Regions from separate parts of the Homo sapiens genome. Here region 2 is linked to region 1. Evidence: fine-mapped expression QTL. A gene starts in region 1. The other region holds a variant in brackets. All regions are shown on one strand. Distances are between the middles of the regions.

Region 1 (5,386 bases):
CCACCACGCCCAGCTAATTTTTGTATTTTTAGTAGAGATGGGGTTTTACCATGTTGGCCAGGATGGTCTCGATCTCTTGACCTTGTGATCCAGCCGCCTCTGCCTCCCAAAGTGCTGGGATTACAGGCATGAGCCACCACATCCAGCCAATATTTTTTGCATTTTTATTAGAGATGGGGTTTCACCATGTTGACCAGGCTGGTCACGAGCTCCAGACCTCAAGTGATCTGCCTGCCTCACATTCCCAAGGTGCTGGGATTACAGCCATGAGCCACACCATGCCTGGCCTGGTGTCCACTGTGTTTGATGGATGATTGAACTGAAAAAAAAAAAATTTTTTTTTTTTGAGACAGGGTCTCTGCTCTGTTGCCCAGACTGGAGTGCAGTGACACCATTTCGGCACTTCGGCTCACTGTAGCCTCAACCTCCCTGGCTCAGTGATCCTCCCACCTCAGCCTCCTGAGTAGCTGGGACTACAGCCTGTACCACCACACCCGGCAGGGTCTCACTATGTTACCCAGACTGATGTTGAACCTTGGGGCTCAAGAGATCCTCCGCCTAGGCCTCCTAAAGTGTTGAGATTACAGGTATGAGTTATCCCTGCTGGCCTAAACTGAAATTTGTTCAGATAATTCAAAGATCCTAATCAAAGGAGTGCACTTGCAGCTGGCTTGAAGCCCTGGAGTAGTAGTATGTCCAGCCACAGAGCCAGGCTGCAGTGACGGTAATGCTTCAGGAATCTATTCAATTTATTTCCTTAGCTCTAAAATTATGGCAGGCCAGGCACTGTGGCTCATACCTGTAATCCCTCAACTGTGTGAGGCCAAGGCAGGAGGAGTTGGATACCAGCCCGGGCAACATAGGGAGGTCTTGTCTTTACAAAATAATTAGCCTGGCATGGTGGTGCACACCTGTAGTCCCAACTATTCGGGAGGCTGTGGTGGGAGTATCACTTGAGTCCAACAGGTCGAATCTGCAGTGAGTGATCGCACCACTGCACTCCAGCCTAGGCGACAGAGGTCAAAAACAAAACAAAAGAAAACAAACAAAAAAAACATAGCAAACATCCAGAAGACTGTGTAGAGCAATGAATGTCTCTCAAGCCAGTGATCTTTTTCTCTTCATTTTTCACATCAGGTGGGTAGTGTGCCCACTTCGTAACAAGGTTTGAGGGAGGCACATTTGACACAAGAGCATGAAAACCCAATCACACTTATGACTTACAAAAGGATCAAGTCAGTGATCTTTAAGCTGTGGGCCATTAAATACATTTTGTGAGCCGAGTGCAGTGGCTCAGGCCTGTAACCCCAGCACTATGGGAGGTGGAGGTGGGAGGATCACTTGAGTCCAGGAGTTCAAGACCAGCCTTGGGCAACATACTGGGAACTCCCATCTCTATTAAATTTTTTTTTTTTAATTTTGTGGATTACAACCATTTCAAAAACTAAAATAAGCGTAAATGTATCAAAATGCAGCTTACATAGCGAGGATAAATGCTGTTTTGTCAATCTGTTGTTTCAAGTTTTTTATGTGTGGATTGGGTCACCTTGTAACAGTGACTTACCTTTATGGGTCACGGTTGAAAACATTTCCGGTGCAGTGGCTGACTGTAATCCCAGCACTTTGGGAGGCCGAGGCTGGAAGATCACTTGAAGCCAGAAGCCAAGAGTTCAAGACCTGCCTGGGCAACACGGCGACACCCCGTCTCTATTTAAAAAGAAAAAAAAAAGTTTCCAAGGCACTGAGATGCCAGGAACCCGAGGTGTGTGTCCAGTAGGGGAGGGAGCAAATTGGGCGTTTGGAAAAAGTCCCACGCCTGGAAAGGAATACACAGTGGGGGGGTGGGGGGCGGGGCACATCGACTACTTCAAGGCACACTCCCACGGTTCAGAAAACCGATTGGCTAAAACTGGGAAAGTCCCGCCCACAACGCTCACTGGCCAATGGCTGCGTGAAATCAGTGCGAAGTGGGCGGGATAGAGAGCGTGGGCGGGGGGGCTAGCCTCGTGCGGGCTCCTTAAGTAGCGGCTGCGTGGCTTCCCTGGCACGCTACTCTTACGACGTCACGGTCAGGTGGTGCAGAGCTGGACGGCAACGACGTCGGACGCGCCCCTTCTTGGAACAATGTCCCACCACGGAGGAGCTCCCAAGGCCTCTACGTGGGTCGTTGCTAGTCGGCGAAGCTCGACAGTGTCCCGAGCGCCAGAGAGGAGGCCGGCGGAGGAGTTGAATCGAACAGGTCCTGAGGGATATAGTGTCGGCAGAGGTGGTCGCTGGAGAGGCACCTCTAGGCCCCCGGAGGCCGTGGCCGCTGGTCACGAGGAACTGCCGCTGTGTTTTGCTTTGAAGAGCCACTTTGTTGGCGCGGTAATCGGTGAGAATGGGAGTGGCTGGCAGGGCAGGATAGGTGGGGCCAGGGGCGGAGCCTGGGCGAAGGCATTTCCTCCCCACTGCCTCACCTCCAATCAGCTGCCACCTAGTGAGGTTCAGGTCTCTCCCAGAGCTATTTGTAAAACCTGGGGATAGAGTATAATTTAATCTGGCCGGGCGCGTTGGCTCACGCCTGTAATCCCAGTATTTTGGGAGGCCGAGGCGGGCGGATCACCCCAGGTCAGGAATTCGAGACCAGCTTGGCCAACATGGCAAAACCCTGTCTCTACTAAAAATATATATATTAAAAAAAATAGCTGGGCGTGGTGGCGCGCGCCTGTAATCCCAGATACTCCGGAGGCTGAGGCAGGAGAATGGCTTGAACCCGGCGGCAGAAGTTGGCAGTGAGCTGAGATCGCGCCACTGCACTCCAGCCTAGGTGACAGAGCAAGACTCCGTCTCAATTAAAAAAAAAAAAAAAAAGTAATTTAATCCACCTTTTGGTGTTTATACAGACAATGTATTTGGGAGAGCAACTCCTAGAAGACTTATGAAATCTTAGGGCTGAAGAGGGATGCTTAGAACAGGCCTTTTAACAGACAGCTAACCCCAGAATGAAAAACAAAACTTAATCAGTCTTTCTATGAGTACCATTTAGAGCCAGAAATCAAAGAAAAGCTATAAGGTCATTGTAGGGCTGCCTAGAGCAGTTGTATCTTGCTTTTAGTTTCCTTAATTTTTAAAAAGTTAAAAACTTTTCTTACTACATCTTGAGTGTTAACATTCAATTCTGAATTTTTAATTTTTTTCTTTCTTTTGATTTTTTTTTTTTTTGAGGCAGCTCTGTGGCCCCAGCTGGAGTGCAGTGTGGCGTGATCTCGGCTCACTACAACTTCCACCTCCCGGGCTCAAGCGATTCTAGCACCTCAGCCTCCCTAGTAGCTGAAATTACGTGCGCCACCACACCTGGCTAATTTTTGTGTTTTTAGTAAAGATGAGGTTTCACCATATTACCCAGGATGGTCTCGAACTCCTGTGGATCCACCCACCTCGGCCTCCCAAAGTGCTGAGATTACAGGCGTAAGCCCGGCCCATTTCTGAATTTTTTTGAAAAGCATTTAAAAATGATTAGAATGATTACCCCATTGATTGCCATTAAGCCCGAGTATAAATTGCCACATTTTACCTATTAGGTGTATTTCACCCTTTTTAAAACCTGAGAAAAATGAATAGATGGAGGCTGCTACAAAATAGTGCATTGTAAGACTAATTGCTGTACTACCCAGAGACTCATTGGCCTTTCAGAAGGCTTGGGCTCAGATCTGAAGAATGATGCTCCAAGAAAGAAAGCCACTAGGTTTGCAATAAAAATCACTTAAGTTAATACTTAGCAGATGAAAGGGCACTGTGCTACAGAGCACTCACTTGATGTTGGATCTGGATCCATCTTTTTTATTGTAAAAAATGAAATACCCTCTTTTAAACGTATATCACAATACTAATAATAAGCACAATGTTGTATCCCAGATCTCTGGAACTTGCATGACTAAAACTGTATACTCATTGAACAGCTCCCCATTTTTTCCTGCCCCATCCCAGGGACCCACCATTTACATTGTTTCTGAGTTAGATTACTTTAGGTAATCCATATAAGTAGAATCATGCAGTAATTGTCTTTGTAATTGGCTCATTTCTCTAAGAATAATATCCTCCAGGCTTACCCATTTTGTAGCATGAGACAGGATTTTTTTCCTTACTAAGGCTGAATGGTATTCCATTATTAAGTATATACCTTACTTTATCTATTAATCAGTCTATGATAAATGGGTAGCTTCCACCTTTTGATTTCAGTAGTGTTATTATGAAAATGGAAGTGCAATATATCTTTGAGACTCAGCTTTAAATTCTTTTGGATGTATACCCCAAGTGAGACTGCTGGATCATATGTTAATTCTGTTTTTAATTTTTTAGTTAATCTATACTGTTTTCCATAGTGGCAGCACCATTTTCAATCCCACCAACAGTACACAGGGGTTCCAATTTCTCCACATTCTTACCAACACTTTTTTTCTGTTTTTGATAATGGTCATCCTACCAGATGTGAGGTGACAATCATTTTGTGGTTTCGATTTGCGTGGACCTGATTAGTGATGTTGAACATCTCATGCCTGTTGGCCATTTGTATGTCATTGGAGAAATGTCTATTCAAGTGTTTGCCCATTTTTCAAAACTTATTTGTTGAGTTGTATGAAAGAGTTCCAATTTCTACATCCTCTCCACCAGTTTGGACCCAATTAAGTTTTGTGCAAGCTGATACAGAATCCATAGTCTCCACCTGTCTGGGATAAGAGTCTCCTAAAACCCACCAAAATTTGGAATAGAACCTCTTACTTCCCTCTTTCCAAACAAAAAATGATTGTTGAACCCTAGGAGCATTTGGGGGGAAGAACTAGAGAATGTTTGTTGAGGAAAATGGGTAAATTTTCAACTTACTAATTTCAACTTATAACAATATATTCCTTTATTTTTAAAAACAGGTCGTGGTGGGTCAAAAATAAAGAATATACAAAGTACAACAAACACCACAATCCAAGTAAGCCATCTGTGTTTTTCGGCCCTTAAGAGAGCATCATGCATTTCTAAGGGAGCACCTAACTCTACTTTTCTTTTTAAGACAGCCTCATTCTGTCTCCCAGGCTGGAGTGCAGTGACGTGATATCAGTACAACCTCTGCCTCCTGGGTTCAAGCAATTCTCCTGCTTCAGCCTCCTGAGTAGCTGGAATTACGGGTTCCCACCACCAAGCCCAGCTAATTTATTTTATTTTATTTTTTTATTTTTAGTAGAGACGGGGTTTTACCGTGTTGGCCAGGCTGCTCTCAACTCCTGGCCTCAAGTGATCCACTTGCCTTGGCCTCCCAAAGTGTTGGGATTACAGGCATGAGCCACTGCACCAGGCCTTAACTCTAATTTCTGCTGAGTTATTAACATACTAGGGTAAATTAGGTAAGTTGCCA
Region 2 (5,386 bases), 740 kb before region 1:
ATAGAATAACTCAAGGAGAGCAAGCAGACAGCTGGAATTTTTGGGAAATGTCTGTGGTATTTGGGTTTATTTTTAAGGGAAAGAAAAATTTCCCATTAAATTTTATAACACAATAACACTTTTAAAACTTATACTCAAAAAGAATCTTTATAATGCTGTTGTAAAACTCAGATTATATTTTATTCATGAATTACAGATTTCTTTTTTGATGACGGTGGTTAGGGTAAGAAGCGGCTTTTATAAGCTTTATTTATCTCTTTTAATTACCTCCTTCTCCTGTCTCAATGCTCACACTTACACTCACTTTAAAAAATTTTTATCTTTCATGGGATCTATATCTAAATAACACCACATCATATGTAAATTAAGAAACATTCCAAATATTCTCCGGGACATTGAAAGGAAATCAAGCAAAACATTCTGTAATGTGTAGGCAACTTTAAAAGTGCTTGAGGCAGAAGCAAAAAAAAAAAAAAAAAGTGAGAGAAAGAGGCTTTCTAGCCTGTGTCTTTTTTAGTTAGATGTTTCAGAAGATGAAGAAATTTTAATTATGTGCTTCCTTAGAGTGAGATATTAATTCCTCTGAATCATTCTCTCCAATTTTGAGTCCCACTCTCATTTTTCTCTCCCTCTTCTTTTCTCCTGGTTTTTCCCCCTCCCTCTTTACCTTTTCTCCTCCCTCTTTTTCCTCCCTCCCCTTTCCTTCTCCCACAAAAAGCCAGAATTGCTTGGTGGTAATTCCCTAGAATTGAGCAGGATTGAACTGGGGGTCACTCTGGCTTTGTACTGTTCCCTTTCTTATCTAACCTGAATATCCTTGGATCTGTAAGACTTTTTCTGATCCATATCACAGCCTTTTTCTCTCCTCACCGTTGCCAGTGGGATTTCTCGTGGGCTTTTGGAGAGGTAGAAGGCATACTTGTGAATGTCAAAAGAGCTGTATTCCTGTATCCTGTTTCAACCCTGAGGAGAGGCACTGTGCTAGTGAGGAAAGAACACCCAATCCTAGTCAAAGGACTGAGTTCAATTCAGCCTCACAAGAGGCTCTAAGTATGATCTTAGACAAGGAAACTTCAGGCCCCAGTTTTCCCATCTAGAAAATGAGAGTGGTTAGAACTATATCACACTGAGGATTATGTGAATTTATATATACGTATATAAAGCCGTGCACCCAAATGCTGTTTACAGCATTCTGTGATGAATTCCCTATTTCAGTTGGTACCATTTATTCACAGACAATCACAGGTATTCAGAGATTGTAAGAATTATGGTAGCAATTGCTTACTATAGTTTGTTTATTCCATAAGAGTGGCTTTCATTTTTTTTTAAAAAAGAGACCTCTCCCTTGGATTTTCGTTATAATATGTTTCACTTGCCACATTTTCTGAATTTTTCCATGTCTTGAAGCCTTTGTGATGGTGTTTCATAATCAACCTGCAGGTTGTCAGAATCAGTGGAGCATGCCATTTACTGCTTGTCTTAGATACACTCAATGATTCTTTCTTTCCTGAGTGCTTCAAGTTTTGGCTTTAAAGATCCTCCTTTGTTTTAATAGATTTTCCATTAGTGTCTGCTTATGTAATTTTATCTCCATTTCTAATTGTGAAATTTGTTGCATAGATGTAAATTTTCTTTCAGTATTATTCAGAGAGAAGATAATGGTTGATACCCAAAAGAGGAAGCTAAAAATGCCTTTTAAAATTCTTACTATATTTTGGTGATTTTTACCAATGACATTATTGTATAGTTGTGGTCATTATACCGTTCATTAAAAATATTTATTTGAAATTACTGCATGAATGCCAATCTCTGAATAACATCTTTGCAAATATAGCATGTTATTTTGTCAGTCCAAATGTGTGCTAAATACTAATTCATGTTGTTAAATGTGGATATAAAAATAGTTAATTCTCTTGCTAAGGATACTCATTTATCAAAGTAAAGTAACATTTTAATATTTTTCAAGACAACTATTTTTAAATATTTATTAGAGAAACTGTTCTAGGAGAAAAATTAAGATAAGGTATTATGTATTTTACTCTGTTATGGACACATACATATTTGGATATCAGATAGTTTCATATCAAATTACATATCTTTGTACTCAATAAATATTAGAAAAACTGTTTACTCATCTGTAAAATATAAATAATAGCATCTTCTCATTGAGTTACTTTGAAAATAAATAAAAATAATACCTATGTACAGGACTTAACCTAGTGTCTACCATAATGTAAGCACATAATGAATACTTGATACTGTGATTGAGTACATGCTATGACTATAACCCAGAATAAGACAATAGGAACATAAAAATAGAAATGATCATCATTTTAGATAGGGGAAAACAGAAGGGAAATACAGAGAAATGACATCATTGTGTTTGAGACCATATGGTATCAGAATTGGAATAGAAGGAAACTGGAGTTGGGGGAGGGAACTGGAAGAGTGTTGGGGGTTTGGGAATGAAGAGGTGATACTAAGTTGTGTTTGGGAATATATTGGATTTAAAGTGATAGAAAGTAATTGTAGTGAAGATGGACTGTAGTCATCTCATGAATTGGACCAGAACTTTAACATTGTTCATTTAGTTTTCCAAGAGATATTTACTGTGGGCCGATACTATGTGCTAGATACTGTGCATTGGTACAGTAACCAAGGTACAGTAAACCAAGGATGGAAATACATAAATTTGTGAGTCGGTTTTCTGAGTGAAAGTTAGAAATAAGGAACAATGTACTAGGCATGAAGTGTTGGTTAGTGATTACAAATAGGAGAGGAGAAAAGAAAAGTCCCCAATGACACAAGACTAGAGGCTGAAGACATATCAAGAGAGTGCTGCACGAGGGGAGAAGACAACTTTAAGACATTGTGATTTCCAGAAGAATCACTTTTATATAAATTGAATGCTTTCTAGAGCTTAAGATCATTCTTATATGTTTCAGTAACAGAAAATGAAGATAAAGATAGATTATTCTTGGCTTTTTACCTATTTACACATGAAAATGATTACATACATCTACTTATTCTAGTGTGATATTATTTTCATTAAAATAAAGGTATTGAAGGAATTGTTCAATGAACAAAGAAAACTGTACTTTTGACTAAATTGTAATTAAGTATGCTTGAACATTTTTAAATGCTTAGTTCTGTAATTTTCTGCACAACATGTAGTAAACCAGACATATTTCCAATAAACACTGCTTACCTTCTTTTTGTTTCCATGTTTAATAGCCAAGGTCTGTCTGTCTTTCTTTCTTTCTTTC[T/C]TTCTTTCTTTCTTTCTTTCTTTCTTTCTTTCTTTCTTTCTTTCTTTCTTTCTGTTTTTCTTTCTTTCTCTCAGAAAAGAAAAAACAAGCCTTGGATTCTTGTTTCAGTAGCTATGTGCAAACAAAATGGAAAAAAAAAAAACAGAGAAAAATCCTCCACAATAAATCGTAATGGACATATAATCTGTATAACACAAAACTTAGTCACCAAAGGATACTTGAAATGCTGCTAGATCAGTTCAAATCAGCAAATATGTATTGACTTCCCATTTTTTAGCACTATGTTAGGTGCTACAGACCACAAGCTCACAGTCTTCAAATTAAGGAGACAGTTATATAAATGATATAAAGGAGAATCTGTCCATCACAGTGAGACATCCAAATGGCTATGAAGATTCCAAGGAGAGACAGAGCATCTGGTTGAGAGAGAGCAAGAAGAAATTCCTAGAGAAAGTGGAATTAGAGAGGAACGGGGAGTAAGAAATGAGAGTAATGCCAGGCTCCGGATGAGGAACAACATGGGCAAAGACATGGAGACAAGCTTGGTGTGTGGTGTTCCTAGGAAATTATTGTCCTGTTGACTGAAGAAAAAGGGACATAAAAGTGGAAGACTGATAGGAGATTTGGATAGAGAGGAATATGTCGGGACATACTGTGAGTGCTATCATGAGGAAATTCGGATTGATTCAATAGGCAATGAAGAGCCATTAATGGATTTTGAGTAGGGGAATAACATTACTGGAGCAGCAATTTAGAAGACTGATTTGACACCAATGCATAGTATATTCTGGAATGAAGACAAATGGCAATTGGAGAAACTGGCTGGGAACTTATTGTTATAGTTTAGCAGTTAATGAAAGTCTGAACCAGCATGGAATGAAAATGAAAGAATCTATATATGGGTCTTCCAAGATGCAGATATTCAGGAACATTCCATACATCCAAAGTTTACATCTGTATAGTATTTTAAATTTCCATTTGCCCTCAGATATTTGGCACAGATCTGAGAGTAACCTTATTGGCACAGGTGATTCTCAGCTGCAGAGTACCACTTTTGTCTGTATTAATGGTGTCTTCTCTTCTTTACAAGGCCACCAAAGTGGATGCATAATTAAAATTTGTTGCTGTTTCTACTCTACTTGTCCTGGACGCTCATGCAGCCAAATTTCACTGGGGACCCAGGACCACACAAAACAGTATGGTGTTATGAACTGGTTGCCCCAGGAGTTTTAGAAAGTCTTCTTAATTACTTTAAAAAGGCAGCAGCTCTCCTCACCCACTGTAACTTGAACGTTGCATGTTTGGCCTCTAGGATCAGTCCTCAAATGCATCTCTACCTAGTATTCCATCAGGAGCAATTGGTATATTTGAAAATGTATTGCTTTATTTAATTTTCATGAAGCTCAGTTTCCCACATAGTAAAGACAATAATCTCTGAGCAAAAATAATTTCAGTTATTCTTATCACATTGTCTATTCATCTATTATATCTTTGCAATATTAAAATGCATTTAATTATAATAAAACATTTAACACAAGTAACTGGAAAACAAAAATCTTTCTCAACTGATTATTCTTAGTCTTGCTTTTATCTCCCTTTTACCTAATAAAAGCAAATTTAGTTTTCTTCATTTATGAATCCAATAAACATCATAGACTCAACTTCCTGATATTTATGCTCTATGAGGGTTTCTCCACCACACAAATTTATGTCCACTGAGAGCATCTTATCTCTGGCTCTGACACTTTTGGCCTGGAACTAATCACTGCCATTGACCATTGCATCTGGGATGCATTAGACTCTGTCCCTAGGTGCTTCAAGATTTTATTGTACAACACCATTTAACAAATTATTTTATTAATAACCCAAACCCTGTGAATCAAGGTACATTTTAAAGCCTAATAAAATTATGGTTTGGGAGGCCAAGGTGGGAGGATCACTTGAAGCCAGGAGTTTGAGACCAATCTGAGCAGCACAGTGAGACTCCATCTCTGCAAAAATAAAAAATAGAAAACATTAGTTGGGCGTGGTGGTGAATGTCTATAGTCGTAGCTACTCAAGAGATTGAGGCAAGAGGATAGTTTGAGCCCAGGAGCTTGAGGTTATGGTGAATTATGATT

The links. PIP is the estimated chance that this variant, and not a neighbour inherited with it, causes the effect.
Region 2: its variant is fine-mapped to the expression of DDX43 in monocytes after R848 (Quach 2016, PIP 0.95).

What each region holds. Positions count from the first base shown.
Region 1 is chr6:73,392,782-73,398,167 of GRCh38, forward strand. DDX43 (DEAD-box helicase 43) reads left to right here and starts at 2,047. Exons shown (of 17, transcript NM_018665.3): 1 at 2,047-2,374; 2 at 4,908-4,963. The coding sequence starts at 2,125. It overlaps LOC124901538 (small nucleolar RNA U13), which reads right to left and starts at 1,232; the gene lies at 1,132-1,232. It also overlaps a transcript of OOEP not described here. RefSeq lists an enhancer at 1,664-2,164.
Region 2 is chr6:72,651,779-72,657,164 of GRCh38, forward strand. All of the region lies in intron 1 of KCNQ5 (potassium voltage-gated channel subfamily Q member 5), which reads left to right. The region is part of intron 2 of KCNQ5-IT1 (KCNQ5 intronic transcript 1); the gene reads left to right. Among named protein-coding and RNA genes, the nearest start is that of KCNQ5-IT1, 24 kb to the left of the region's middle. The variant T/C (reference allele first, on the strand shown) is at 3,267.